3 separate regions of the Homo sapiens genome follow, and regions 2 and 3 are each linked to region 1. The links come from fine-mapping of genetic effects on gene expression. A gene starts in region 1. Each other region holds a variant in brackets. All regions are shown on one strand. Distances are between the middles of the regions.

The links.
Region 2: its variant is fine-mapped to the expression of NOS1 in thyroid (GTEx, PIP above 0.99).
Region 3: its variant is fine-mapped to the expression of NOS1 in substantia nigra (GTEx, PIP above 0.99).

The regions. Positions count from the first base shown.
Region 1 is chr12:117,356,508-117,364,936 of GRCh38, reverse strand. NOS1 (nitric oxide synthase 1) reads left to right here and starts at 3,311. Exons shown (of 29, transcript NM_000620.5): 1 at 3,311-3,425. RefSeq lists promoters at 2,265-3,186, 3,353-3,425, 3,650-3,810, 1,533-3,810.
Region 2 is chr12:117,562,801-117,571,229 of GRCh38, reverse strand. The region is part of intron 7 of KSR2 (kinase suppressor of ras 2); the gene reads left to right. Among named protein-coding and RNA genes, the nearest start is that of NOS1, 210 kb to the right of the region's middle. The variant G/T (reference allele first, on the strand shown) is at 3,394.
Region 3 is chr12:117,780,780-117,789,208 of GRCh38, reverse strand. The region is part of intron 3 of KSR2 (kinase suppressor of ras 2); the gene reads left to right. Among named protein-coding and RNA genes, the nearest start is that of KSR2, 180 kb to the left of the region's middle. The variant G/A (reference allele first, on the strand shown) is at 4,242.

The DNA of each region.
Region 1 (8,429 bases):
GGGTCTCAGCTGGTTTGATCTTCCAATAGCTCGAGAGAAGGGTGGCACAACCCTCATCTCCCCCTGAACCCCAGAGAGGTCCTGGTGGAATCAGGTTATTGTGACAGCCCAGAGCAGCTTCCAAGGCACTACACCCAAGGGGCATTTTGGGGACTGTCCCAAGGCCACCTGGTTGATGGTAAAAGTCTCTTCCCTCCACTTGCTGGGGATCTCTGGAGACACTGTCCGTACTCATGTGGTAGGGGTCCCCAAACACCAGGAGCCACTCTCCCCAAACCCTAGACACTCCCCAGATGGCTCTGACATCCTCCCTCTCCCTCTTTCTCCACAAGACAGCGGCGAGGAGGCAGGAAAAGCTCCACTTTGGGGTCCCGAGTTCTAATATCTGCTTTACCACAGATTACCTGGGTGACCTGGAGCAAGTCACTTTGCCTCCAGAGCCTCTATTTTCTCCCTCTGTAAAATGGGAATAAGAAAGGGAGTCATTTCTTACCATTTTTATGATGGTTCAGTGAGTTATACCTATTAAATGCGTGGCTCAAAACCAGCAAAATGGGAAGTGCTCAACAGAAGATGGCCATTGTTCTCTTTACTACCGCAACTAGTGTTGTCCATAGTTCCCGTTAATCCTGGGGAAACCACCAGAGGGAGGGAAGGGAAGTATCTGGCTCTGTCTGTCACTGTCCGTCTTTCTCTGTATCTCTGTCTCTCTTTCCTGTCTCTGCCATTCTCTCTCTGCCAATCTCTCTCTCTCTCTGCCAATCTCTCTGCCAATCTACCAATCTCTCTCTGCCTCTCTCTCTTCTCTTACTCTGTCTCTCTTTTTCTCTCTGCCAATATGTCTCTCTGTGTATTTTTTCTTTCTGTCTCTGCCAATCTGTCTCTCTCTCTCTGCAAATCCCTCTGCCTCTCTCTTCTCTTACTCTCTTTCTGCCAATCTGTCTCCCTCTGTTTTCTCTGTCTTTCTCTCTGTCTCTGCCAATAAGTCTCTGTCTTCCTGTCAATCTCTCCGTCTCTCTCTTTTTCTGTGTGTTTTTTCTATCTCCGTCTCTGCCAATCTCTCTCTCTCTGCCAGTCTTTCTGTGTGTTTTTCTATCTCTGTCTCTCACTGTCTCTGCCAGTCTCTGCTGTCTCTGTCTCTCTCTTTGTCTATAAATCTCTCTGCCTCTCTCTCTTCTCTGACTCTCTCTGTTTGTGTGTGTGTGTGTGTGTCTGTCTGTCTGTCTTCGTCTCTCATCTACACACACACACAGAGGGCACCTCATGGTCCCTGGCTCCACCCGTGGGCTCTGAGGCTCTGTCTTCCCAGATCTCTGTCTCAAGAGCTACATTCTAAGGCTTTGCTTTTAATCGCACCAGGGCACCTGGAAGTGAGGAGAGAACTGAGGGGAGTGGGGTTTCTGTCCCCCTCTCCCCAAACCCAAGCCAACTCTGCCTTCTGCAGGCACAGCCAGCCTTGGCCCGACCCCACTATCTCCACCATCTCGTGGCCGTGCATCCCCTCCCAACCACCCTTCTCCCCAATTTCAAAAAAGCTTGTGCTCCCAGAGAGGAAGTGCCCCTACTCTGAGCTTCTTTTGGCCTTGACCCACACATAGGCAGACGTGGACTCTGTTTTGAGCAGGTGAACCGCCAGCCCAGTGGAAGAGCAGCTTCCCTTCCCCTAGCTTCCTGATTTTCCCCAGTTGCCATGGTAATTGAGGGAGCAGTGTTCTGAGAATGACACCACTGAAACCCAGCGCTCAACTTTGAAATGGTTCGGGCAAGGGACGCTGGACCCAAAACAGGAGGGGACCAGACTGCAAGGACTCAGCTCCAGCCTCAATTTTCTGGGACCCACCCCCCATCCAGCCTGTATGCTGGATTATTCTCATCATCATCAAAATCACCATTATTGTTGGCAACTGTTTCCTGAGCATTTACTATATGTCTAGCACCATGTCAAGGGCTTCACCAGCATCATCTCATTGTGTATATCCTCACGACATCCCCAGGCCCATCCATGGCTCAGGAAACAGGCTCTGAAACTTGCCCTTGTGGCAGCCAGGAAGTGGCAGAGCCCTGGGGCTGGTGGCATTTCTCCAGGCCTCCTTCCAGCATGTGGAAGACAGCATAGACCTCCAGGCACCCTCGTCAGCTTATTCTTTATTCCTTCCTCCCCTCCTCATCCCCCACACCCTTCTTCCTGCCCCCAAAGTCACACACCCCCTCCCCTGCTGGATGTGCAAGACGATCTGAAAAGCATTTATTAGTGACAAAGGGGGTGGTGGTTTTCCTCTTTGCCTCTTCTCTGCGCAACTCGAAGCCTGAGTGGGTTTGCTCCGCTTGGCAAGGCTGGGGAGGAGGAAAAGATCAAATCACCCAGAGCCAGGTGCCAAGTGTGTGTGTGTGTGTGTTTGTGTGTGTGTATGTGCGCGTGTGCGCGTGCGCGTGTGTGTGTCCTCTCTTTCCTTGATTTTCCCCCGTTTTCCCAAGACTGTGTGAGCAGCAGCAACAGCAACGGGGAGATGCAAAATCCTTTGCAATCTGCCCAGGAAAAGACAGATTTTGAGTCGGGTTTATATGGTTACCCATATGTTAGGGCCCCTAAGAAAGGAAGGGAAGCTGCGTTCTCTGTGTCTTCCCTCCTCCAGCCCAGACCTTGGCCTCTCCACACCTGTGGGGCTCCCAGGCCACAGATGAACATGTGCCCTCCATCCTTCACTCTCCCCAGATGCCAGGCCTGAGTGTGGCTCCAGAAAAGACCAGAACCAGGCAACATTTCCTGAACAGGCTGCTTTTCTCCGTCTGTCCACCCGAGAGCCAAGGCCAGAACCCAGGCTGCAACCTCTGCGGGCTCCTGGGAGGGGCTCCCAGCACTGCCCAGCCTGGGAGGCTGTGTGTTCCACTGTCCCATTAAGGAATGCTATCCCAACACTGATGTAGAGGCAGAAATAACCATCCCTGCCTCCCATGGGGCCTTCTCTGCCCAAATAGACCTGCCCTGCCCTGCGTGGCTACTACATTCAGCCCTATCCAGGCTCCCAGAAATTGTCATTGTGTGTGTGTGTGTGTGTGTGTGTGTGTGTGTATGTGTGTGTGTGTGTGTGTGTGTGTGTTTCCTGATAGAAAAAAAAAAATGGAAATTAGGTTATATAAAAGATGTATGCTTTGGAGCCCAGAGCGGCTCTTTTAATGAGGGTTGCGACGTCTCCCTCCCCACACCCATAAACCAGTCGGGTTGGACGTCACTGCTAATTCGTTTCAGTGATGATAGGATAAAGGAGGGACATTAAGAAATAAATTCCCCCTCACGACCCTCGCTGAGCTCACGGCTCAGTCCCTACATATTTATGCCGCGTTTCCAGCCGCTGGGTGAGGAGCTACTTAGCGCCGCGGCTCCTCCGAGGGGCGGCCGGGCAGCGAGCAGCGGCCGAGCGGACGGGGTGAGCCAGGGGCGCGCGCGGGGCGCCCAGCACTGCGCCGGGGAAGCCCGCAGCCTCCGTCCCGAACTTGGGTTCGCTGAGGCTGAGGGAGGGGACGCAAGGGGAGGGAAGAAGAGAAGGGAGGAGTGGGGGCTAGGGGAGAGGGGGTGGGGAGGGATCTTGGAGGCACAAAGCGGAGGGGAAGGGGAGGGACGCGCGCGGCTCCTACCAGGAGGCGAGTGGGTGCAACCGGCGCCCTCCAGCCGCGCGGGGCGGCGGACTCGGAGGATTCAGAACCCGGAGCGCGGCGGCCGCGGGCGCCCGGGAGGAAGAGGAGGAGTACGAGGCGGGCGGGCGGGTGCGCAGCGCGAAGAGGCAGCCTCGGCGCTGCCCGGCTCGGCGTCAGGTGAGTTCCTGATCCAGGCGTCCCGCGCCCCTTCTCCGTCCCCAGGGCTCCCCGCTCCCGCCCGAGCCCCTGGTGTGCGCGGAAGGCTCGGGCTTTGCTGCGCGTCCCAACTTGGTTCGGGCGGCCTCATTTTCCTCCTAGCGGGCGGCCTCAGGCCGGGGGCTCCGGTCCGGGGGTCTACGCGCCCAGGCTCCAACTTTGCAAGACCCTAGTCGTTCCTCAGCCGCGCGCTTGGCTCCGAGCTGTGCGCTGGCGGTAATGGCGGAGCCCTTGGCACAGCTCGCTACCCTCCCGCGGGCAGCCCGGGCTGGGGGATGCCAGTCCCTGGGGACCGTTGTACCTGCCCAAGCTCAACTTTACGCCTTCCTCGGTGCCCGACTCTGCGGCCGAATCGCAACTGCGAGCCGCAGGTAATGGCGGAGTCTTTGGCACTGCCAGCTGTCCGCGGCTGGGGGCCCGAGGCTGGGAGGGCTCCGCTCCCGGAACATCGCTCCGGCCTGGCCTCCAACTTTGCGAGGAGCCTCCTTGCGCTCTCCTCCCGCGGTCATGGCGGGGCCGCCCGCACCTCTCACTTCTTCCGTCTGGGCGAGATTGGGGTGTAAGAGCGCCGTCTCCAAAACCTGGGAAAGTTGTGCTTCTCCCGCAAAGGAGGCTCTAGGGAGGCCGAGGGGCGCGTTCCGCCACGGTTCGGGGCTGGGCAGTGGAAGGAGCGCTCGATGAGGTTGCTTCCAGGTGGCCAGGGTTCGGAGCAGGGTCCCCGGGGGATCCAACTTCCAGGGCCACTCAGGGGCCTTGCGTCCGAGGTCCCGGAAGGGGCTCTCTCGGGACTGCGCCCCAGAGGACGCCAGACGCTCGCCCCCACCCCCAGGGCACTGTGACCAGAGAGCTCATGGCTCTCCAAGCTCCGCATCAGGCTGTCTGGGGTAGACATCTAGAGAGGAGAGGCTCTCACGGAGAAGGCAGCCGAGGAGGGCAGGAACCTTTCCAGTGACTCCCCTGGGTTCTGGTCCTAGATCGACCCTTTACTTGTTGCGTGACCTTCGGTAAGTCTCTTCATCTTTCCCAGCCTCAGTTTCTCATCTGTAAAATGGAGAAACTACCTTTTTCGTGGGGCTGTCATGAGGACCTTAAAAAATCATAAATGTGAATATGAAGTCAGGGTAAGCGTTCATAACGCAGGAAGTGTTGCTGATATATATATATATATATATATATATATATATATATATATATATATATATATATATATAAAACCATTATTGTAATGCTCTGGGACCGGATCTGGGAGACTCGCACGCAGGTCTAGGGTTTCCCCACCAGTAGGAACCGGGGGGTCTACCCCACAGGGTACTACAGGCTGCGGAAGATTGCTCTCGCCTCCATCTCTACCCCAGTAATCCTGGGAAAGACGCATGGGATTCTTCCCTCTACTCCCATAGCCCAGCTCAAACCCTGCGCTCAGGCCTAAGAAAAGCGCGCACGCAGCCACCACGGAGGGAGGGTCCCCAGGGACGCCGCTAGGCAAGGGTGCGGTGCAGGCGAGCGCGCCCATAGGCGCCTCATCTCACCTCTGGCGGCCCACGACATTGGGAGACAGCAGAAAGGAGACCCCAGACCTCTCCTCCCGAGAGGAATGAGGGAAAATTGCTGCCTTTCTTTAGTGCTTCTCTAATTGGGGTCGGGGCAAACGCAAGAAATTCGTAAACACCAGGGAACACTGACGCAGCTCTCTGGAGCATAGATTTTTTCCCCCGTTATTTTTTCAGAACTGAAGATAAAATAGGAAAAGGGCTCTTGTGGCAGCTCCCCAAGTGCGCAGGGGTCGCGTCCATTCTCCGCCCTCAAGGCATCTCAGCGGATGGTTTGAGAAGCCTCGGCAGGTCCCTGAAGGAGGGGGTGTCCGCCCCACCAGCACCGCCACGGCGGGCCCCGGCCCCTTTCCACTAGTCTGGATTTCAGAAGCGCCCTGAGGGGCGCACGGCTCTGCCACTGACAGCTCCAAGGCACTGTCACACGTATTATTCACCTGGAGCCTCTTAACTTTCAGGTTGCCAGTGCAGCCATCTGAATTCCATTTTGCAGCTGCGGAAATTGAGGTGGGGCAAACCAAACTACCTAGCCATAGTCACCTAGCTGGTAAGTGGCACTACCCGAGACCTCAACCCCAATTTTCGGCTTCTTAATTGGGGCATTTTGCATGCATCTGGGCATCTACGCAGTCTGGCATGTGCCTGAACCTTAGCACACACAGCTGTATTTCCTGATACATCTGTTCAGCCAGAGGCCAACGCTATGGTCAGGGGCATGGCTTTGTCTCCACAAATTGTGTGATTTTTTTCCCCAAAGTCCCAAATCATGTAGAGAAAGAGTGAGCAGTGTGGTAGAGAGACCTGGTGAAGACCTCAGCTTGAGGCCAAGCTTAGCTCACTCCATGGCTGTGTGACCTCAGGTTGATCACTTAACCTTTCTGAGCTTCAGTTCTGTTATCTGTAAAATGAGAACAGTAACTCCCACACGGGGCTGTTTTGAAGACTCTGTGATGATGTATGTGAAAGGGGTTCTGGAAACAATGCTGGTATGCCAAGACTGGTGATTGTAAGGAAGGAAGGGAACCCGAAACAGAGGGAAGAGTGTCCCATGGAGCCATTTGGGGCCAATAGTGTCATCGTGGCTTTCAGAGCAGCCCGCTTTTTGCCCTTTCTGTCTCCTCTTTATATTTCCCAAATGGCCAAAGCCAGTCCCCAGGAGCCTCCATCTTCCTTGGGGAAGGACCGCACGGAGAAGAGTGAGAGGGCGGGGGTATTGTGATGGGTTAGGCTGCTCCCAGTGGGTCTCTGTGAGTAAGATGCAAAGAGTTGTCCGAGGTACCATTCAGTCAGTTGTCCAGAAACTTCCCCACTGGGGGGCCGCTGATTTCCCAGGAGGCAGGAAGATTTGGAGGTCAATTCGCCTGCATATTGTGAGCACAGACAGGTTTGGCTGTGCCTGTTGCGCTCACAATCTGCAGATGTTTTGGGGTGTCTTATGACAAGACTTCATGTGTTGCCTGTCACTCAGGTTCTGTGGGTCTGTGCGGGGCTTGGAATGTGGTTAAGAGCCACAGGCAACAATCCGTGCTCGTGAGAACTGGGGCTTTTTCCCATTAGAAACTGGAATTTGTGGAAGTTGAATTTGGCATTTCAGGACCCATTTTAATCTGGATTGTTTGAACAGAGGGGCATGTTTCCTGCCATGGATCAGTGTGGGTTTGTGTAGTTAACACCACATAGGTTACAGACATGACCATTTTCCTCGTTCTAATATATGATAACATTTAAACATCATCTAATCCAGCGAACGCCAAACATCAGCCCAGTGGACCTTTAGTGTCAGAATACAGCAAGTCCCTGGTTAAAAGCAAAGATGCCAGACCCCACCCTAAATCTACCGAATCAGCATTCCTGGGGGAGACTGGAAATATCTCTATTTTTAACAAGGTTGCTCCAGGAGATTCTAATACTCTCAGTTCTTGTCTGTCACCCTCGTTGTACAAATTGGGAAACTGAGGCCCAGAAGAGGCATGTGACTCGATGAAAGTCACACAGCACATTACTGCCAAAGCTGGGATAGAACCTCAGTGTCTTGACTTATTGTCCAATCCTCATCGATGATAACTTCATGTTTCCTTCAGTACAAGCCCCGTAAATGCCGGACTTTAAAGAAATTTAATTTCATCTTTCTGGTTGTTATTCTAAATTAGACCAACTGCTCAGAGGAGACTGAAAATAATTCCTCCCACCTTGACCTTGCTGGGTGTCAGCCCTGAGTTCCCATCTAATCTTGGACATTAGCCCCACTATTTGATCTCTCCCTTTCAGAGGGAAGGGGCTTCGACCTCCTGGGCTCAAATGATCATCTCTCCTCAGCCTCCCGAGTAGCTGGGACTACAGGCCTGTGCCACCACACCAGGCTAATTTTTGTATTTTTTGTAGAGACGGGGTTTTGTCATGCTGCCCAGGCCAGACTCAAACTCCTGGGCTCAAGCCATCTGCCTGCCTTGGCCTCCTTAAGTCCTGGGATTGCAGGTGTGAGCCACCACGCCAGGCCTAGAAAAATTCCTTTTATAAGTGACCTATCAGGTATAACTTCTGCAAAGAAGTAATCACAGAGCTAATAAACCCAGTTTAACTACCACTGATTTCACCAAAGCCATTGGTTTGAGTTCATTTCCACAGCCCATCGGCCTTCCACTCAGCCTTTGCAAGTGTGTTTATGTTGCTCACATGCCCATTCTTAAGGTGGAAGAATGATGAGCAGCACCTGGCAATGCTGGAAAATTGAGCCCATTCGAATCTTTTAAATGAAAATGACGTGTCAACAGAAAGTGCCCCTAAGTCTCTAATTCAAGTATGGTTAACAGGGTATAGTGGACATGGGTCTTGGCACAGTCGTATGATGCTAAGGATGAACAGCAGTTATCGTGGGCTGTTCGGCAGCAGACGTCAGCACATTTATTGTATGTGTCATGACACGTGTTAAATGGCAAGGCCAGTGCTAGACCCCAAGGGCAGGTGCCCAGATAAAGGTGGTGTGAGCCCCATTCTAATGAAACCTGTAGTCTGGCTAAGCGGTGAGCACCA
Region 2 (8,429 bases), 210 kb before region 1:
ATGGAGTACAGAGGCATGATCTCGGCCCACTGCAGCCTCGACCACCCGGATTCAAGCAATTCTCCCGCCTCCGCCTCCTGAGTAGCTGGGATTACAAGTGCCCACCACCATGTCCGGCTAATTTTTGTATTTTTAGTAGAGACAGGGTTTCACTATGTTGGCCAGGCTGGTCTCAAACTCCTGGCCTCAAGTGATCTGCCTGCTTCGGCTCCCCAAAGTGCTGGGATTACAGGCATGAGCCACCGTGCCTGGCTGGAATAGGTTTCTTCTGAGCATACTCCCTCAATAAATCATTTGCAAGAATATTCATTTCAGGATCTGCTTCTACAAAACTCAACTTATGACAGTGAAACAACAGCAAGGATACAGACTGCAGAGAGAGAGCTGAGTTCAGGTCCTGGCCCTGCCACTCCCTCGCTGTGTGACTCTAGGAAGGTTTCTAAACCTCTCTGATACACAGTGAGGCTAACACATTCATTCCATGTGATGAGATATGTTCATGCCCCGATAATAATGACTTGAGAATTCTTTCAAATTAGAATCTTTAAATACGTTGTTCAGCATTTATTTCGTTGCAAAACCCGACTTTATATGAATGCAAAGTATAAAAAGAAACAGACCCACTAAATCGCTTCCATGGGTTGAAGCAACATCGAAGTTCTGGAAAATTTTAGCCCATTTTCGCCTTTTCTGTAGTTCTTGTTCTCTGCTTTTCCTTCAGAATTTTCTGAATCAGCCAACTTCTTGGAAGACATGTTATAGGGTTTATTTCAGTTTTTCTCAACCTTGGCACTATTGGCATTTGGGGCCAGATAATTCTTTGTTGTGGGGGCTGTCCTGTCGTTGGAGGATGTTTAACACCATCTACAGTTTCTACCCACTAGATGCCAGTAGCACCCCCTCCTCACTCCCAGTTGTGACCATCAAAAACGTCTGCAGATGGCTCAAGCCTGTAATCCCAGCACTTTGGGAGGCCGAGGCGGGCGGATCACAAGGTCAGGAGATTGAGACCATCCTGGCTAACACAGTGAAACCCCGTCTCTACTGAAAATACAAAAAATTAGCCGGGCGCGGTGGCAGGCGCCTGTAGTCCCAGCTACTGGGGAGGCTGAGGCAGGAGAATGGCGTGAACCTGGGAGGCGGAGCTTGCAGTGAGCCGGGATCACGCCACTGCACTCCAGCCTGGGCAACAGAGCGAGACCCTGTCTCAAAAAAAAAAAAAAAAGTCTGCAGACATTGCCAAATGTTCCCTGGGGGTCCAAACTGCCCCCAGGAGAGAGCTACTCATTCCTACGCCATGGGGCTATGGTGTGCATTATTCAGTTTTAGAATGTGAACTTGCAGTTGCTTGACCTGTGCTTGGACTCATTACTCAAACAGTCAACTTATAGGGTGAATCCTTATATATATTTCAGGTTATAGGGTGAACTACAGGGTGATCCACTCTATAGTTATAGGGTGATATAGGCATTATAATCCCTATTATACAAGGGGGTGATCAACCATCCCAGTTTGCCTGGGACTTTCTGAGGTTTAGCACTGAGATTCCCAAGTGCCTAGAAACCCTTCGGTCAGGCCTAGGTTAGCCACCTTACAATAGACGTAGGTCTTTACTAACTAAAGACATTTTATATGTTCCTATGTTCCAGTTGAGGTTACTGCCCACTTCTGTAGGAGTGAGACCCATGTTCGTTCCCCTAGTAAGGTAAGACATGGTGTTTGGAAGCCTGAGTTAACCAGCACAAGATTTCCAGTGTATTTCAGTGGTGTTTTCATGGCCTTTATACGAGTCCTCTTTCCTCCTGCCTGCAGTGGCTGGCCAGACATGCTTGTACCTACTTCTTTTTATGTAAACAGTCACTTTAATAATTTTTACTTAAATAAGCCATGCACTTCTCAATTGACTTTTGCCGTGTTAGTGGATCTTTTCACTTGGGTTTGTACACATCAAAATCCAAGTGAAAATGTCAAATAACACAGCAAAACCAAGCACATCTTGATTTTCTCTCTTGCCCTGTGCATTCTGCTCTCCTATGTTCTTGCAACAAAATATATTTTACCTAAAAATGTCCAATTTTTTTGCAAAATCGCTGCAGCCACAGGTGATGAGGAGATAAAAGTGTGAAGTAAGCCATGGCTGGTTTGAGCCACCATTGCACTAATTTACCCAGACCTTAAAAAGTGGGGAAATGATGAGTGCTGATGTCGCAGCTGCTGCGAAGTTCCTGGAAGCTTTGGGAGTTTGTACAACAGGCAGGATATTGGCAGGATATAATTATGAGCAAGTATTTCAGAGATCACCAGCTTGAATCTTGAACTTACTTTTCTATTAATAGAAACACTTCAGTTTTTGCAATAATTATAATGGGAGTTAATCATCCTATATATGCGTTTTTACCTATGATAAGCAAAAATTTAGGTCTAATTATAGTTGTATCTGAGGGATGCTTATAATTCTACTGGGGGCTGAGGTGGGATTAGATGTGATAATGATGATGATAATTATGATGATGCTATCATGTATTGGGGGCTCACCCAGGTGCCAGACATTTTGCTAAACACTTTACATGCATGATCTCATTTAATCCTTGCCACAACTATGGAAAGTAGGGTCTATTATTACCCCCATTTTACAGACGAGGAAACAGAGGCCTTCAGAAGTAAACAGCCGGCTCGAAGTGTCACGGTGTGTGGATCTGTTACTCAAACCCACTGATCGCTCAGATTCACGATCCCAGACTTTTAACCGCTTTACACGGGCAAAGGGCTGGCTACACAGCAGGCCGGCAATAAATGCTACATGTCACTCTGCTTGCCCTTTAACTAAACAAGCAGAACAGAGTATAAGAATTTGGTCTCAATTCCAACCTGGACCAAAGCTTTTCCTCATCCCTCCCCCAGCCTGCCACATGCTCCCATCATCCTTTCTTGAATTGAAAGATGACAAATGGATCTTTGTGTTCTGATGAACACCTCTGGGTTCAGAGAGCCAAGAAGACTCTACAGTCGCTTTCTTCTTTTTCAGGGAAGGCGAGGGAGAGGAGAGGAGGGAGGGTACAGCAAGTAATACATTTACAGCTTCCCTTACAGTGTCCTTTTATGGAGAGAAAAGTGCTGGGGGTTCCTGGTGATTTTTCATGATGTCCTTGGAACCCGAGGTCTGATTTATATGTCAATACTTCCTACCGCCCTTTGCTCATTTGTATTGTGGTTAGCTATAGGCTAAAGAGCTAGACCCCACTGAGTTGTTAGCAGTGAGGGAAAGGGTGTTTTGATATCCTGTACTTGGAGCATACGGAGGCATTTCTAGAAGCACTGGCTCAAACAAGAGACCACAGGGGAACTCACATGAGACCAGAATGCTCAGTTGGTATGCAGTGAACCTGCACTTTT[G/T]GTTTTGATATCCTGCACTTGGAGCGTACGGAGTCATTTCTAGAAGCATTGGCTCAAACAAGAGACCACAGGGGAACTCACATGAGACCAGAATGCTCAGTTGGGGTATGCAGTGAACCAAGCCCTGCTGCAAAGGGGGCAAGGATTCGGTTTCGTGATTTTTTTTTTTTTTTTTGCGAGAAGCCTTCAGGAACACTTAATGCAGTGACCTGGAAAAGGAAAGCAGGTACAGAGAGTAGGGAAGATAATGAGAGGGGAACTTTGCTGCCCTTTAATTGCAAGTTTCTGCTGCCAGAGGGTGTCTTTTCAAAATGCTTAGCCAGCATTCCCCTCCCTGTTTAAAATCCTTCATTAGCTCCCCCTTGCTCTCGGCGAAATCCAACTTCATGACGAGACCGCGCGCCATGTTTGCTTACTCCTCTGTCCCCTCGCATCTCTCCCCTCTTCATGCCCAGAGCTGCAGCTTCTCCGAGCCATCAATCCCCGTGGCAGGTCATGTGCCCACTCATTGACATGTCTTTGCACCCCATTGCTACTGCCTGGATCTTTCTTGCACACCTCTGCTGGCTCTCATTTATCTTTCAAGCTCAGCTCAGCCACCACTTCCCTCCGGGAAGCCTTCCCTGACTCCCCTCAAATCTGAAGTGCCACCTTCTGCCCTTTTCTGTCACACCATATTACATACTACTATGTTTTATTTGTCTATTTACCTGCCTGTCTTCCTGACCAGACTTTAAACTCTTTGAAGGCAGGGCCATCTCATTTCTGGACGGTTCACTGTTTAAACCTCTAGCGCCAGCACAGTGCTTGGCACACATGGTAAATGCTCAGTAAATACTTGTTGCTTGAGTAGATCTCAGTAGGGACCTCTGCAGAGAGAGCGGTTCTTGACAATATAAGCTCCCCAAATCTGGTTCAAATCCAGCTGGGCTCATTTATAAGAGGCAATTTGGGCGCAGTAGGATGAGTAGAGAGATGTTCATGCTTGAAGCCACAAGAGATGGGTTTACATTCTTGGACAGTAAATTTCTTGCTAGACTGCAAGATCTTTAAAGAAAGAATTCTTGTCTTATTTAATTATTATACCTCCAGTGCCTAGCATAGCCCTTGGCACAGAGGAGGAACACAGTGTCTTCTTGTGGGCATGCAGGGATGAATTGTCCCAATTCTGCCCATCACTATCTGAATGACTGAGCTTGTTACTGGACCCCAGTCTTCTTGACTTAAAAATGGGTATACATGGAATACTATGCAGCCATACAAAAGAACGAGATCATGTCCTTTGCACGAACATGGATGGAGCTGGAGGCCATCATCCTTAGCAAACTAATGCGGGAACAGAAAACCAAATACCACATGTTCTCACTTATAAGTGGGAGCTAAATGATGAGAACACATAGACAGAAAGAGGGGGGCAGGCCAGGCGCAGTGGCTCACGCCTGTAATCCCAGCACTTTGGGAGGCCAAGGTAGGCAGATCACGTGAGGTCAGGAGTTTGAGACCATCCTGGCCAACATGGTGAAACCCTGTCTCTACAAAAAATACCAAAATTAGCCAGGCGTGGTGGCGCACTCCTGTAATCCCAGCTACTCAGGAGGCTGAGGCAGGAGAGTCACTCGAACTGGGGGCGGAAGTTGCAGTGAGCTGAGATTGCACCACTGCGCTTCAGCCTGGGGACAATAGACATGGCGGCCTACTTGAGCAAGGAGGGTGGGAGGAGGGAGAGGTTGCAAAAAAAAAAAATAACTACTGGGTACTAGGCTTAGTACCTGGGTGATGAAATAATCTGTACAACAAATCCCCGTGGCACGACATGAGTTTACCTATGTAACAAACCTGTACGTGTCCCCCTGAACCTAAAATAAAAGTGAAAAAGCAAAAGAAAATACTGGGGGGAAAAGTAACAGTTAAAAAGAGTCTTAAACTTCAAGTCTTAAACTTGATTGCAGTCTGAAACTTGAATTGAGGTTTTAAAGCCATGCACATAGAAGACTTAGAATTATATATCACATGATTACACATGACTACACAATGGGGCCACATCAATGAGGATTTATCACTTCTGTTTTCTGAAGAATGAATGAGCAAAATGAATGTATTAGATCTGCAGTGAGAGTAAACAAACAGATAAGTTATCTCCAACAGAATCTAATAAGGGTTAAAATATATGTAAAACATTTCACACAGTTTATCTCACATGGTAAAGGGAAATAATTATTATTCCTATTCTCATTGTCAATATTGTGATTCCATAGCCATATATAAACTGATATCCACTATTTTATTAACAAAAGTAAGCCAACAAAAGCTAGATGTTCAGTACTTTTCACATATTACATGGGTGTAACAATATACACCTCTTAAGAGATTGCTGTTCAGGGGAAATGGGTTGTGTAATTTAGCACCTGGCTCAAAGTTTGTGCTTGTTTAATGTTTCCTCAATTGGATATTAGGAGCCAGGTTTTTAAAATGTTCCATGTGCACTCTGGAAGGAAAGACTGGGCCCTAGTCAGACAGATTATTGTAAAGTTAGCTGGCATGGAACAAGAAAAAATAGGAGAAATGAGAGATCGAAGCTGATCGGAGCAAATTTTCATCCGTTGGTTAGAATCGCCCAATGAACAGTGAGAAATTGACGTGACAGTCTTCCCTAGGAGGGGTCTTGCCTGTCCCTCCTGTGAACGCCAGCATTTGGATTCCAGCTCTGTGCCAGGCTCTAGGCTTATGACTGCTTCACAGGGGGCCATGACACATCTTTCAAGAAAACAGCAGAGCTGCTTGTGAAAGAGACCATTTGTCCCCCGCAGTTCCCATGGAGATCCAGTTTGCTTCTGGTCAAATCCTGCCCTCCAGCCCCGCACTGGGAAGAAGGGAGGGAAGAAAGAAGGAAATGCAGAGGGGGCATCATTGCATTTCACAAACAAAGAGGGATACGATTTATAAGAAATAGAAATAGCCTTTCAAAAACGTTTTGATAGGGATTAGAATGTTTCTAAATCTGCAGTGTTTGACAGATTTCCCCTTCTGCCTGTTCTTCTTTTTCTTTCCTCCTCTTTCCCTCCATCTCTCTGATACTTACCCACCAGATAATACACACCAGGCACCTTTCAATGAAGGAGGAAAGGAAAGGGAGGTAGCACATGAGGGAGACCTAGATTCTGCCCTCAAGATAAATTCACATATTTAATATTCAGACAGAGATGATGTCTCATTTAGCCAGCAACTCCCTTGGGGGAATGAGATGTTCCTCGTAAGCAACTTTTCCTGATAACTGAAGCTTATCCTATTAAACCTTAGAAGTTAAAAGAAAAAAGAAGTTAACTATTTGCCATGAAAGTTTTAAATAAATCCTTTCCAAGTTTGCAGGCTTTTTCTGTGTGTGCTCAGAGTGGGTCATATCCCTGCCTGCTAAAGCGTTGACCTATTTGGTGCCTATGTGGTACTACTTAGACATTCTCTCATTAGATGCTGTCTTGCCCTGCCAGGAAGGGCAGACCTGTGATTCAGGCTCAGGTCGGCTTGATTGCAAAGTGCAAACTTTTGACCATTTCTGGAACCATATAGGACCTTCCCTGGTGCCTGGGAATCCTTCAGACCCACCATCTTGAAACATGGGGCTCCTCCTGGCCCATATCTGGTGTGGAGGTTTGCCTTCTTTCACGTTACTGGGGGCAGTCTGTTGTGTCCACCTCACCTCTTCCCTTCCTCCTTCGGGAATGGAGCACCTGGAGAACCAAATTCATTAGGGACTGACAGCATGAGGAGCCAAGGGTTTTGGTGTGAGAGCCATGGGGAAGGCCACGTTCATGCTCTGAATTTCTGTTAATAATCCTGGTGTTTTAATTGGGCTCCCTGTTTCCACAGACCCAGAGACAAGGATGTGAGGGCAAGTGGTTTATTTGAGAGGTGATCCCAGGCCACACCAATAGAGGAATGGGGAAGTGAGACAGAGAGTTAAGGCAGCTGGTAATGGGTGCATCAAAGAGCAGGTGCTTGGGGGGATTGGGGTGCAGTCCTAAAATGAGCATGCCTCTGGGTCATGCCACCCATGAGAGAGGGGGCTGGAATATCCATCAACCAACGCCCACCTATAGTTGGTTGAGGTCTCCAAGTGTTCTAGCCAGCCCATGTTTCCAGCCAGAGAAAGTCCTCCAGCAGAGGATCTTAGGGGCTTGCTGTAGAAAGCTGCTGCACAAACTAGCAATAATTATGGTAACTACCATAATAAAGATAGCACCTGCCGCTGCTTGAGATTCTACTGTGTGCCAAATATTTGTTCTGGGCACCTTACTTGCATTATATCATTAGTCCTCACTGCAACCCAGAGAGGCAAGAGGCTACAATTGTCCCCACCTTACAGATGGGGAAACTGAGGCTCTGAGTGGATCGGCAGCTTGCCCAAGTTATCACAGCCAGGGAGTGGTGGTATCAGGATTTGAACCTAGGTTTGTTCTATATACTTTCCCCATTTTCCTTTCGGAGGAGAACATTGTATTCCGAAAGATTCAGGCTCCCATTCATCTCTCATCTGGGAAGTAGAATGTATTCCTCTGATATGGTAGTTCTCGAGTTTCACGTGTGCTTGCTTAAAATTTGCATTCCCAAAAGACACTTACCCAATCAGGACCTTGGAGAGTGAGGCCTGGGAATCTAATTTTGAAGCAGGTGGTCTCCTGGTAAATTACACGCTAGTAGCTCTTTCTTCCATGGGTAGGGAAAAGGAAAAGCCACATTTTGGGAAAATGATGCACATTTCCAGCTGGAAGAACAGTTTCCATTAAGAGGGACATAGTGTGCTTTGCAAAACCTTGCTGTGGTCCCTCTTCCCTCTGTCTCCAGAGTCTGTGTAATTTCAGGGTTTGTCTAATCCTGCCGACTCTATTAGCAGATCCGGGATGTGCAGGCTCTCGTTCTTGACATCTGAACCTAAGTGCAAGGTTTAAGTGCCTGGGCATTGGAGATATTTCCCTTGGGGTTTTCTGCATGAGCAAGGCTGTGTTTCCACTGCTAATGCTGCCCACCGAAGCCCCTGGCTG
Region 3 (8,429 bases), 420 kb before region 1:
TGAGAAGAAAAGGTCAGAATTATAGGTGCTTGGAGACTAATTTGCAGTGAGATGTACGAAGTTTAGCAACTTCAAGTTTTTCAAACCCTGAACGTTCTTAATCTCCAAGTCTAGACAAATTGCAAAGTGAGATCACTGGACCAGCAGCAACAGCAACCCCTGAGAACTTGTTGCAAATGCAAAATTTCAGACTTCACCCCAGATCCCAGGTATGGGAAACTTAGGGGTGGAGCCTAACGTTGTTTTAATAAGCTCTCCAGGGAATTCAGATACATGCTCAAGTTTGAGATCCACTAGCCTAGAGCTTCCTTTTTAATGGAGAGAGAATCATAGAATATTCAACTTGAGAAGATCAGCTTTGTCTTCTAGTCCAGGTCATTTGAAATGTGTTCTGGAGGCCGGGCAATGTGGCTCACACCTATAATCCCAGCACTTTGGGAGGCCAAGGCAGGTGGATCATTTGAAGTCAGGATTTTGAGACCAGCCTGGCCAACATGGTGAAACACTGTCTCAACTAAAAATACAAAACAAACAAACAAAAAAGCCAGGCGTGGTCATACGCACCTGTAATCCCAGCTACTTGGTAGGCTGAGGCAGGAGAAATGCTTAAACCTGGGAGGCAGAGGTTGCCGTGAGCTGAGATCATGCCACTGCACTCCCGCCTGGGCAATGGAGTGAGACTCTGTCTCAAAAAAAAAGTGTTCTGTACAACATTGGAGCTCAAGTCCTACCTGCAGGATTTTTCAAAGCTTATAATATGCTAATGTGCTTTTTTAATCTCCAGGGGAGGGTTATAGCATGCAGTCTTTTTCAGATTTCCTTTCAGGACTCATATCCCATGGTACAGTTTGGAAAACACAGATCTAGTCCAATCTCCCAGCAAGTGGACAATTTGAAGTTACCTTCTGTAAATTTCTGGTTATTCAGCCTTTCCTCCAAGTCTTCTAGATACAGGGAGTTGCTGACCTTATGAAGTCATTCATTTCTTTTGTTTCAGAGGAGATCTTGGTAACTATTAGCATTTGCCTTACAGTAAGCTAAATCTGTTTTCCTTTAATTTCCTCTTGGTTTTACCTCTGAGTCCTGGAACCTCCTAGAACAAGTCTAATTCACCTTCTGCCTGACAGCAGCAGGAAGACAGCTGTTCATTCTCCATCTCTTTCCAAGACTTCTCCTTTCTGGTTCCCATCCCATAGACATGGTCTGACTTTTTTAGCTAGTGAAGTATTTAGAAATTGCTTCTTTAAAATTGCTTATTTCCCACGTACAGTTTCAAAGAGTGATTACAAAGAGCAAATGTTTATTATTGAGTTGAAAGGTATCTCAAGAATTTTCTGGTGTGGTGTAGTTTATCTCTACTTCATCTATCTGAGACAGATGGCAGTTCATCCTGTTAATAAAGATCTGGGGGAGATCACACAGTCTTTCTGGTTAGTCTGCTTTGGTGAGTCCAGTGGTTTTGCTCATCTGAAAGCTCCTTCTTGTGCCTAGCCACGTGGTTTACTTACCCTTCCACTCCTAAACTATATTTGCACTTTGCTTTGACCAACCAATTAACTGGCTTTCTTTTTTTTTTGAGATGGAGTCTCGCTCTGTTGCCAAGGCTGGAGTGCAGTGGCGCAGTGTCGGCTCACTGCAACTTCTGCCTCCTGGGTTCAAGCAATTCTCCTGCCTCAGCCTCCCGAGTAGCTGGGATTACAGGCATGTGCCGCTGTGCTCGGCTAATTTTTGTATCTGTAGTAGAGGCGGAGTTTCACCATCTTGGCCAGGCCCATCTCAAACTCCTGACGTCAGATGATCCGCCCGCCGTGGCCTCCCAAAATGCTGGGATTACAGATGTGGGCCACTGCTCCTGGCCTACTGGCTTTCTTCTTATCTCTCATTTACCCATTTACTCATTCATTCCATGCACATTTGAGTATCCATTCTGTGCCTGGTATCCCACAAGATGCTACAGAGCCAAGACTGAACAAGACCAAACTGATCTGCACAGACCTTACAGTCTCTAAGGGAGAAGAGCAATGATCATATAAACACATAAATACACACTTTAAACTTGTGCTGAGTGGACAGGCAGTGGCAGAGAGTAGTGGGGTAGGGACAAATTCAGATGAGATGGTCTAGGAAGGAAGCTTGATGTTTGAGCTGAGAGCTGATATACATAATTTTTTTTTTTTTTGAGATGGAGTTTTGCTCTTGTTACCCAGGCTGCAGTGCAGTGGCGTGATCTTGGCTCACGGCAACCTCCACCTCCTGGGTTCAAGCGATTCTCCTGCCTCAGCCTCCCGAGTAGCTGGGATTACAGGCTTGCAACACCACGCCTGGCCAATTTTGTATTTTTAGTAGAGACAGGGTTTCTCCATGTTGATCAGGCTGGTCTCGAACTCCCGACCTCAGTGAGTTTCACTCTTGTTGCCCAGGCTGGAGTGCAATGGTGCGATCTCGTTTCACTGCATTCTCCGCTTCCTGGGTGCATGTGATTCTCCTGCCTCAGCCTCCTGAGTAACTGGGATTACAGGCACCCACCACCACGCCCAGTTAATTTTTGTATTTTTAGTAGAGACGGAGTTTCACCATGTTGGCTAGGCTTGTCTCAAACTCCTGAGCTCAGGGGATCTGCCTGCCTCGGCCTCCCAAAGTGCTGGGATTACAGCCGTGAGCCATCATGCCCAGCCAAAAGATGTTGTTCTAAATAGATACTAGGGTCTGCTTAAGGGTGGAGGGTGGGAGGAGGGAGAGGATGAGAAAAAAGAACTATTGAGTACTAAGCTTAGTACTTGGGTGGTGAAATAATCTGTACAACAAACTCCCATGACACAAGTTTACCTATACATCAAATCTGCACATGTACCACTGAACCTAAAATAAAAGTTTAAAAAATAAAAAAAATAAAAAATATGTTAGTATCATGGGTAATATATGAGTGAGTGGGACAGCTTGAATGCCTGCTTAGTAAAAAGTGGAAAATACGATTGAAAAAATATACTTCTTTCTTAAATGTTGTTAAAATGGAATAAATGTCAAAATTTATCTGCAAAAAAAAAGATGTTCTAGTAACTTGTCTTTCATAGTCTTGATAAGAAATCTCCTGTCATTCAAGTTGTTGTCCTTTTATCTATAATGCATCATTATTGTTTTTTTAATGGCCGCTTTCAAGATTTTCTTTGGCTTTCAACAGTTTGATTATGATGTGCCTAGGCGTGGTTTTCTTTGAGTTTATCCTATGTGGGGTTTGCTGAGCTTTTAGAATTTGTGAATTTATGTTTTTCACAAAATTTGGGAATTTTCAGCCATTATGTCTTTAAGAGTTTTGTTTTGTTTTTTGTTGTTTTTATTCTGCACCAATCCTTCTTAATTCTCCAGTTAGATCTTTTGAATGTTAGATCTTTTGATATTCTCTAATTGCTCCTTGGGGCTTTTTTAAAGAAATCAATCTTTTTTCCTCTCTGTTCTTTGGATTTGATAATTTCTATTCACCTAACTTCACATTCACTGACTCTTTCCTTTGTCATCTCCGTTTTGATATTGAGCTCATCCAGTAAATGAGAACATTTTCCAATGAATTTTGGATAGTGTATTTTTCGATTCCAAAATTTTCATTTGGTTATTTTTTAATAGCTTCTGTTTCTCTATGAAAATTGCTATCTTTTCATTTCAAGAGTGGTTACCTTTATCTTATGGAGCATGGTCATAATGCCTGCTTTAAAGTTTATGTCTGGTAATTCTAATATCTGGCTCATCTCAGTGTTGCTACCTATTGATTGCTTTTTTTTTTTTTTTTTTTTTTTTTTTTTGAGATGGAGTCTCACTCTGTTGCCCAGGCTGTAGCGCAGTGGCAGGATCTTGGCTCACTGCAACCTTCACCTCCCGGGTTCAAGCAATTCTCCTGTCTTAACCTCCCAAGTAGCTGGGACTACAGGCACCCGCCACCATGCCCAGCTAATTTTTGTATTTTTAGTAGAGATGGGGTTTCACCATATTGGTCAGGCTGGTCTCAAACTCCTGACCTCAGGTGATCCACCTGCCTTGGCCTCCCAAAGGGCTGGGATTACAGGCGTGAGCCATCATGCCCAGCCTGTTGATTGCTTTTGCGTTTGAAAATTGGTCAGGATTTTCCTGGTCTTTGGCATATCACGCAATTTTGGAGTATCTCCTGGAGATTTTGAATATTTTTGTGAGACTCTGGGTTTCCTTCTGGAGAATATTGATTTTTGGTTTGCTTGTTTTGTTTTTCTTAAGCA[G/A]TCAGTAGTCTGGTTAGAGTCAGACTGTCGGTGCTGTCTTGTCTTCTATAGGTGGTGCTCCAATGCCAGTTGAGTTCCTAAAGCCTTTGCCATGCTTCTTAGGGTTTATTCCAAGTGTGGGCAGCATTTCACACACAGATTAGGGCTCTCCTCCAGTTCTTTTCTTTTGGAGATAACTTGCACATTATCTGGCTTTCAGGGGCCTCTTTCTCCAGTTCTTTTGGCCAAAAAGATAGGGTTCTGTTAGAGTTTTAGCCTCTTGTCTTGTTGCACAGATCTGAATGACTGGCCTTCTCATTGGCGGTAAAGTGGTGAGAGAAAAGAGAGAGAAAAAAACCCATGGGTGCAATGGACTTAAAGATGATGCAAATAGCAGACACTGGGGACCACTAGATGGGAGAGAGTGGGAGGGAGCAAGTGCTGAACAACTCCCTATTTGGTACTGTGCTAATTACCTGACTGTATTAGCCTGTTCTCGTGCTGCTAATAAAGACATACGTGAGACTGGGTAGTTTATAAAGGAAAGAGGTTTAATGGACTCACTGTTCCACGTGGCTGGGGAGGCCTCACAATCATGGCAGAAGAGGAAGGAAGAGCAAAGGGACGTCTTACATGGTGGCAGGCAAGAGAGCTTGTGCAGGGGAACTCCCATTTATAAAACCATCAGATCTCGTGAGACTTACTCACTACCATGAGACACAGTATGGGGGAAACTGCCCCCATGATTCAATCATCTCCACCTGGCCCTGGCCTTGACATGTAGGGATTATGACAATTCAAGGTGAGATTTGGGTGGGGACACAGCCAAGCCATATCACTGAGTGATGGGGATTATTCATACCCCAAACCTGAGCATCACACAATATACCCCTGTAACAAACCTGCACATGTACCCATGAATCCGTAACAAAAGTTAAAATTATTAAAAAATTAAAAAAAATTCTCATGTACTCTTCCTTACCTTATTCACATAACATTGGCCTCTATTCTGAGCTTCTCAGTCCAAAGGAATGGGATATCTTTTGGGGGCTTTGGTGCCTGTGCTGTTTCTGTGTCATATGAGTGCAGTTTTGTGTCTGGGCTGATTTTGGGACATGGCTGGGATAGAAAAAAGACACACACACATAAAAACCCCAAGGATTCTGCCCATACTCTCCTACTCACAGATCTTCCTTTCCTGGTCCTCTGGCCAGAAATATGGGATACTCTGAAGTGTTTACTCCTCATTTCCAAAGCACAGTTCCTAAATCCTGCCAACTTTTGGCCAAAACTGACAGATGAAGGAAACTCACCACCGCCATAATGGCCATGCTTCAGATGTGGACTCCCCTGCCCTACCCACCTGCTGTCATTGACTTGTAGGAATCCTCAGGTTGTTGCCTTTTCCATTTTTTTTCCCAGAATTTTTGGGAAAGATAGGCTTTGGTGGGCTTGCTCTATCATGGCCAGAGCCAAAACTGGGATGGGTATTTTTTAAGTATAAAATCACTAGACCCTCAAAACAATCCTATGAGGTGGGTGACACTATCCCCATTTTACAGATGAGGAAACAGAGGCTCTGATAAGTGAATCAGGATCTAAGCCCTCACCCGATTGCTGTTGTCGTGCTACTTGGCACCTTGCTCAATGCGTTGACATGATGCAGAGGCTGTTTCCTTGCTTGCCTTATCTCCCCTATTCCACTATGGGACCCTTGGGGTCAGGGGCTACATCCACCTTGTCCTTCATCCATGAAATCAAGAAAATATTAATAACTACCTTGTAGTGCCGTTGTAAGGGTTGAATTAGGTAATATACATATAATATTTAGAATAGTGTTGGGCACACGGTACACTTTCCAAAAAAGGGTGATCATGATCATTGTCATTTTTATTTTTTCCTTGGATATTGAATGCTGACAGCAAAGCAATTGACATAGGGTAGGGCTCAGTAAATATTTATTAAGTTCAGTCCTTGGTGAAACCATTTTTATCCTTAAACACCATGGATCTTACTTTGTTGTTTCTTTTAGAAACCCATGAGCATTTTTTGCGATTATTATGTGTAGTCCCCCATTCTACCCACAGGATGTTGCTATGTGGGGCGGAGGGGTCTAGATGTCCTGGTCCCATTCTTACCCTACAGCCTTTCCTGTTTTCTTCTTTTTCTTGCTCAAGTTGAACTTTTCTCACTTCTCCCTTATCGAGAAATAAGAGGAACTCTGGGTTCAAATTTTGGCTTTTTCACTTAGGAGGTTTGTAGCTTAAAACATGTAAAACACAGACCCCTAGAATCTCATATATACTTTGTGAAGAATAGAGTCTACCCCACAGTGTTGCTGTGAGAATTACAATGAGGTGGTACTCGCAAAATGTCTAGCATAGTTCGTGGCACATAGTAGATACTTTAAAAATATTTGTTTCTGGTTGGGTACAGTGGCTCACGCTTGTAATCCCAACACTTTGGGAGGCCAAGGTGGATGGATCACTTGAGTCCAGGAGTTTGAGACCAGCCTGAGCAACATGGCAAAACCCTGTGTCTACAAAAAATAAAAAAGATTAGCTAAGTGTAGTGGTGCACGCCTATAGTCCTAGCTACTCGGGAGACCAAGGTGGGAGGATCGGTTGAGCCTACAAGGTTGAGGCTGCAGTGAGCCATGATTGTGCCACTGCACTCCAGCCTGGGCAACAGAGTGAGACCCTGTCTCAAAAAAACCTGTTAGTTTCCTCATTAACATTTGATAATAAGATATTCAGCTGCAGTATGAGAGGAGTTACTCTAGATACAGGAGGGGAGTTCTGGTCCAGATACTATTGGCCAGAAGCTGACCAAGGCTTCTAGCATCTCAAAAGAAAGTACCTGCTCCATAGTATGCACTCAATAAAGACATGTGGAAAGAATAATCAACAGAACAATTCGAATTTGCTACCCTATCTCCCAGCATCAGACTGCCCTACAGGGTTGGTAACTAGGGGTGGAACGATGTTAAGCATGAACATCTCTGTTGCTAGTATCTAAACATGCTTAGTTCCACTTTACCCGATGATTTTTTATCAGTTTCAACGGTTTAATTATTGTTTAGACCTGCAGGGATATTTTTAGTTTTGCATTTGTTCTTTATCTCTGGGTTCGGCAGCATCTCCTTTTAGAGATATCCTTTGGAAGCATTGTCAACCTGACGTTTGGGCTCCAGAGGCAGGCTGGGTGCCAGGGAGGGTTAACTGCTAGGGGGACTCATTTGTGTTGGCTTCCTTAGGTCAAGCCAGTAAAATATTTATTGGTGTAAATTTTGTGCCAGGGGCTCAGATGGTTTGAGGATATGGAAGATACCAAGACATGGTCCCTGAGCATCAGGAATTCATCGTCCAGTTGAAGACACAGACAAGTTTACAACTCAAATGCAGTGGGTTTGGTTCGTGAGGGGTGATCATTGGTGCCATGACATTGCACATGGCACTGTCCTCTGGATAAATCCTCAGCTCTCCACTTTGACTTGTCCACCTCTTCTCTGCCTCACTTTCCCCCTTCCCTCTCCCCATCATCTGCACTCTACCTCCTCTGCCACTCTGAGCCTCCTCCGGTGGATCACATCTTTGGACAGACTGGTTCTGGCTGGGACACTTGTCCCTCTTTCTTTGCTTAATGAACCGCCACTCATCCTCCAGACCTGTATTAGTCTGTTCTCACGCTGCTAATAAAGACATACCTGAGACTGGGTAATTTATAAAGGAATGAGGTTTAATTGACTCACAATTCCACATGACTGGGAGGCCTCACGATCATGGCGGAAGACGAAGGAAAAGCAAAGGGACTTTTTACATGGCAGTGGGCAAGAGAGAGCGTGTGCAGGGGAACTCCCATTTATAAAACCATCAGATCTTGTGAGACTTTTTCACTGCCATGAGAACAGTATGGGAAATACTTGCCCCCATGATTTAATTACCTCTCACTGGGTCTCTCCCACAATACGTGGGAACTATGGAAGCTACAATTCAGTGAGATTTGGGTGGGGTCACAGCCAAAGCATATCAAGACCCCAGTGCAAATGTTCTTCCTTAAGGAAACCTCTCCGTAACCCTCAGCTCTGGGTTACATTGCAACAACCTTTATGACATTGTGAGATGTGATTCCTTGTTTAGCGCCCATCTCTTCTTCCAGATGTGTGCTAGACATTGTATGTCCAAGAGAAAGATCATGGGAACCATGTAT